2 separate regions of the Homo sapiens genome follow, and region 2 is linked to region 1. The links come from fine-mapping of genetic effects on gene expression. Tissue or cell type: skeletal muscle. Region 1 holds a variant in brackets; the other region holds the start of a gene. All regions are shown on one strand. Distances are between the middles of the regions. Region 1 has its middle 220 kb from the start of ADGRL2. Region 2 holds the start of ADGRL2 (adhesion G protein-coupled receptor L2).

Evidence for each region. PIP is the estimated chance that this variant, and not a neighbour inherited with it, causes the effect.
Region 2: ADGRL2 starts here. The variant in region 1 is fine-mapped to the expression of ADGRL2 in skeletal muscle (GTEx, PIP above 0.99).

What each region holds. Positions count from the first base shown.
Region 1 is chr1:82,016,696-82,019,610 of GRCh38, forward strand. No RefSeq gene overlaps it. Among named protein-coding and RNA genes, the nearest start is that of ADGRL2, 220 kb to the left of the region's middle. The variant C/T (reference allele first, on the strand shown) is at 1,752.
Region 2 is chr1:81,799,084-81,801,998 of GRCh38, forward strand. It overlaps ADGRL2 (adhesion G protein-coupled receptor L2), which reads left to right and starts at 1,851. Exons shown (of 24, transcript NM_001366006.2): 1 at 1,851-1,985.

The DNA.
Region 1 (2,915 bases):
ATCGGCTGACTGCTCAGTTTCTCAGAATATCTTCCGAGAAGCTGAATGAAGCTCCTGTGACTCCAAACAGTATGGAAAGTGGAGCAGGAGAAAGAAAAATACATTAAATACAGATTTTTACATTAAATATACATTCTATAGAGATCAATTTTTTCGTAAGATTTTTTTTGCTTATGTCATATATGGTTATTCAGAAAATAGGCAGAAATAAGCCAAAAAAGAAAAGAAATTGATATAAATCTGCCTGGGTATGGCAGCATCTTAGGTCTCAGTGACAACAGAGAAGCCCCAGAGCATGAGTTGAGTTGATGTTACCCTGCTGTGCTGAGACCCAGCTCCGTGGTGGGAGGAGCAGAATCTAGCCATTGCTGTAGTCACTCCAGCTAGACAGCGTGGCAAATGAGCAGAACTTGGGTAATGCAGAAACCAAACTGGTGAGTTTTATAATTAAAAAAAAAAAAAAGACAATAATTCTATAGCACATTTAAGGATTAAAAGATATAATGTTTCTAAAGTGCTTATCATAGGGCCTTGTACAAACTAATAATTGGAAGCCAAAAATTAATCAGGTGATAATATAGCTTGTTAAATGTACACAGGATTTTGCACTTTCACTATCCATGTTCTTTTATTAGATCCCTGAGCAGTAGGAAGGGCAGCTCTCAGTCCTATTTTACTGGTAAGAAAATAGAGGCATCAGAGGCACGAAATTACCTTCCCAGGCCACTCAGACCTGGGTGGTCAAACGGGAAGGTCCAGAAAGAGAGGCTGGGTTTCCCATTACCAATAGGTTCCGTTCTTTTTCTATTACACTACTTTAATGTTTAAGTCACCATAACATTTTCCAGTTATTTAATTGAGAAACAAAAGAGCTAGATAAGCAAAAAATGAAAAACAAAAACAAACAAAACAACTCCTCCCAAACTCCAAAGACCAAAGACAAAAATAAAAAACCCAACAACAAAATAAAACAAAAAAACAGAACCAACATGACTGCTATGCCAACATTTCCTATTTTACTCAAAACCTAGACTTTTGGTAGCCATAAGGCACCAGGAGCTGAACTCTCCTAAAAAGAAAGAATTCATTGATTCCTCTTATAGCTTGAAGAACAGTTGAACTATCAATTCGTATCTGATATATAAGGTTGATGTGTCTGAATAGATTAATAAAATAAATATTGTGGAAAAGTAAAATTCAGATTTACTCTCCAGTCAGTTTTTCATGAAAAAGATTAAACAGAAATCAGTAACTACTTTTTTTGAGCAACTAAACAAATGAAAATCTTGGGATCTGACAAAAAGATTTGATAAGAATTCTGGTACTATGGATATTTCTATAGAGATCAATTTTTTCATAAATTTTTTTTGCTTATGTCATATGCGGTTATACAGAAAATAGGCAGAAATAAGCCAAAAAAGAAAAGAAATTGATATAAATCTCAATAGCTAGAATTAAACACCTCTAAATCAATTTTGTCTCCTCCCCACCTTCCTTCTTTTCTCTTTGTTCTCTTCCCCCTTCCTCCCCTTCATTCCGCCCTCTAGCTCTTCCTCTTTCCCCCTTTTCTCTTCCCCAAATGAAAATCTGTTTTTAACTGGCTTTTTATACTCAACATTATAGATAAGATAATATTTTGAATTTAGGCAAAAATTGCATTTTTATAAATTTCTACTGCTTTCGGAATTTTGGCTAGTAATTCTCAGAACATTTCTAAATAGAAGATTACGACTTACCAGTTGTACAACCTA[C/T]ATTTAGGGCTTGTTTTGCCCAAGGTCACATAATCTGATATCCTAAGAACATGGTTGAGTTGGCTCATACAGTGGGAATCATCAGCTCAGATGACAGCACCTCATCTGCACTGCTCAGGGAGTGACACAGAAGTACTGGCTGGCTGTAGTCTCATACCATTAGGAATTACCCCAGGGATTTGTATTCTTTGAAGATTAAATGTTCATTTGTCCAATCACAGTATTGTAAAGTTGCAGGTATGTTGTCTTCCAAATTTCAGAGGTATTGAGACTACTCCTAAAATCTATTGAACATGCTCATAAAAAAAAATCACAACCTCAGAAGATTTTGTCAGCAGAAACCATCAACCCTGAAGAAAAGAAATGATTTAAGAAAAATCCCCTGATTTAAAAAGTGACCCCTAGAATAAGTTTGGAGTAATACATTATCTACTTTGTTTTTATAACTGTGCCATTCTGTCCACGATCTGTGTGGACAAGCAGCATCAAGAGAGCAGCTCTTTCATTGCAAAGGTGCAGAGGTGTAATTTATGACTCCTTTGCAGACACACTGCGGACCTGGACATCATTTCACTTTCAGCTACTAGCATGCAGGAAAAGCAAATGAAAAGTATTAATGTGATACATCATGCCTTTGGAAATTGGGAAAATAATTAAATTCCTTGCTGATTCCCATTAACACAGTTTGCCATTTGCTATAACAATCCAGCCCCGACACACACCTTGGAGTGATTACAAAAGACACAGTGAAGAACCCCAAAACTTGAGGCAAAAATTTCCTAAGGTGTGACCTGGGTGTGCTATGAGTAGCCCAGCAATATTTTTGATGGCTCGCACCAAAGACCACTTAATGGTTGCAAACTGCAAATATGAATTGCATTTGAATTTTGTCTAATCAATTCAATATATCAATCAGCCATATTGTTAAAAAAAGAAATTTGGTTGAACAATTTTGTCAATTCCGTCAAAATGATCAAACCAGTTATAAATATAACCATGATCAGGGGCTTGTTTCTTCAGGCTCTTGTGCAGTTTCTGTTGGGGAAAGCCAATTCAAGAAGCATTTATCAAGTGCCTACTATGTGTCAAGGCACACAGTAGCACTACTTGTAGTAGAAGTGTGTATATAACACATTATCTTTCCTCAAGGAACTTTCAATTAAT
Region 2 (2,915 bases), 220 kb before region 1:
ATTAGATAATTCTGCCTTCTTTTCAACGACTTGAAGTAGCCTGATTTAATTTTGCTAGGTAGATCTGTTGTATGTATGTATTTTGACATATGTAAAAACTTAGGTACGTTATAAGGTTTTGCACCAGCTCTGCATAAGTGTACTTTATCCAGACTAGTTTATATCCTGCGTGGTTAATATTTGAATTATGTTATGTAAGAAATTCCAGATGTAAGTGTGTATGTAGTTTAAAGCACCAATGCTCTAAGTTGCTCCTTTTATCTTTTGAAATAGTGAGAATATTAAAACATCAATACATCAGGTAGAAGAAATTAGATTATCAAAGGTTCTTTTTTAATCTGAGAATTACAATGAAACCACCAAAAGAACATGTTCTAGTTATTTGGACACACGTACATTTAACCTATGATTTCCTACAAGTCAAGAACAAACTTGACCAGTAGTTGGATTGGATTTACTTTAGTACTACACCTATCTGGCTTTCTGACAAAATACTGATAGGTATTTAGGATCTTCATGTATTTTGAACAATCTGCTGTTGACATATTAATAACATTGTTTGGAATGATTCCTGAAGTATGATGCTTGCAACATTCCTGCAGCACCAAAAAGTACCTATTGTTTCTGAAAGCAAAGCAGCTTAAGTTTTATCCTACTTTCTAGGTTTTAAATATTGGAGAATCATTTTTTTCTTGAAAAAAAGGTAAATATGCTTATTTAATTGATGGCTGCATTCATTAGTAGAATCAGTGGTTTACAAATACATCTGAAAACATAGCTGCTTCCAGCTCAGAAATTTTGCAATAAAAAAAAAATCCATGTTTGAATTTTGTGGCATGCACAGGACACTTAACTGGCTTTTAAACGTTTTTCCAGCGTGATTCGCCCTGTCCTGCTCTGTTCCTTTCAGCTTAGGTCCATCGTAGGCTCTGCCTGGCTGTTTGCTGACATTGCCAACCGAGAGGGGCAAGGAAGTGTGTTCAGAGGACAAGAGCAAAGGCAGTTTCAATGTAAGGAAATGAGGGAAACAGACCTAACAGCTCTGTGACTATACTTGAGAGTAAAGAGCCTTGTAGTCTCCTTTCCTTCCTTTGCTTATCCTGGTGAGTTTAATCAAAAACAAACAAAACGCTCTTGTGAAATATAGTCAATAAAGTCAAAGTTTAGCTGGCTCTACGTAACTACAAAGAAAAAAATCATCGCAATTTAAAAAAATGTAACTTTCATTAACGAGCGCGCCGGAAATCTCAGGTATCAAAGACGCATTAACCCTGGAGCGTCCCCCGCGCGCCGCAGCCGGACGGAGGCAGCCGCGGCGAACAGACGTTCTTTCTCCTCCATGCAGTTACACAAAAGGAGGGCTACGGAAACTAAAAGTTTCGGGGCCTCTGGCTCGGTGCGTGGAGAAAAGAGAAAACCTGGAGACGGGGTGGGTGAAAGACGCATCCCGGGCGCCTCTCCGAAGTCCAGGCCGGGAGCAAGCTCCTGGGCCTAGAGGGGAGGGGGCCCCGAGCCGCTGGTCATCCCCCTGCGCTCAGCCTCGGAGCGCCGCGCTTCGCGGCGCTCTCCCAAATACTCTTCACCCACTCCAGAAATAAAATAAATGTTTTTAAAGTGCATGTGTGTGGACAGGATGGAGAGCGCGCGCCGGCGGAGCGCGCGGAGGACCCAGCGCGCAGTGAGTGGAGTTTGGGGGTGGGCTAGGGGTTAGCGGTTGAATGGGTGTGTTAATGGGGGGAGCTGGAGGCAGAGCTCGGGGACCTGGGGGTAGGGGGAGCGCGAACCGACTGGGAGGGGAGAGAAGGGGAGGGGCGCGAGCTGGCGCAGGCCGCCTCCGGGGCGCGTTCCACGGCCGTGCGCGCGCGTCCCTCGCCGCCACCGCCGCCCGGACAGCCCTGCGGCCGCCCCGCCGGCGGAGCCGGGGCCGGCCTGGTCCTCGGGCGGCTGCTTGGCCACCGCCACCGCCGTCCGAAGGGCTCGAGCCCGTAAGTATCCCCTTTCGCTCCTCCTCCCCGCCGCTTGGGCGCACAGCCGCAGCAGCTGCTCAAATGGAGTGGAAAACGGCCATTGGGCGACAATGAGTTATAGATTATCTGCTCCACGTTTTGTACTTAGCTGCCTGTAATCTTCTTTTGAGTTTGCCCGAGCCCCTTGCTGGAAAACTCAGGAGGGAGAGATTTGTCCTTTGACGCTGTACACGCTAGTATGTTTATATGATTAGCCCAACTGGCGGGGAGGGCGGATTTGGGGGAAGGAGGAGGAGGAGGCTGGAGGTGACTCCAGTTCAGACCTCGCGGAGAGTCTGTGTCAGGACTTCGCATTCCCCCGTCTCTCTCTCTCTCCCTCTCGCTCCCTCTCACTCTCTCTCCGCTCACACACACGCAGAGGTGCTGGGGCGAAATCGGGAGCTTACCAGAGAATTCCTTGGGATTGTTGGGGGGCATCTCCCCTCCGCTGCTGTGTGTGGCGTGGCTCTTCCCGGCTACTCCTTGCTTCCCCGAGCCCGAGTCTGCGCCGCCAGCCTTCCTTGGGGCAGCGGCCACCGCTCAGCCCCGGCCGGGAGATCCGAAATGTGAGGAGGGGTCGCCGCCGCCTCCCGCCCCAGGCCGCAGGGTCGGCGCGAGGGATGCTATTCCGGCCGGGCGCTCGGGGGGCTGAGGGGCTTCGCCTGACAAACTGAGTTGGCCTCGCGCCCCCGGCGCCCTCCCGCCCGTCGCTTCGAAGGGACTCCCAAGTCTGCGCACCTCTGTCAGGCTTTTGCTTCCACCACCCCTTTCGCTCTGATTCCCGATTTTTTTTTCCTAAGGGAGCGTGCGGTCTGGGGGTGTGTGCGTGTGTGTGAAAGACCTCTCTCGAAGAGCGGCGTGTGGGAAACTGCGGGAAAATGTTGACTTAACCCCAGGAGCCGCCCGGCG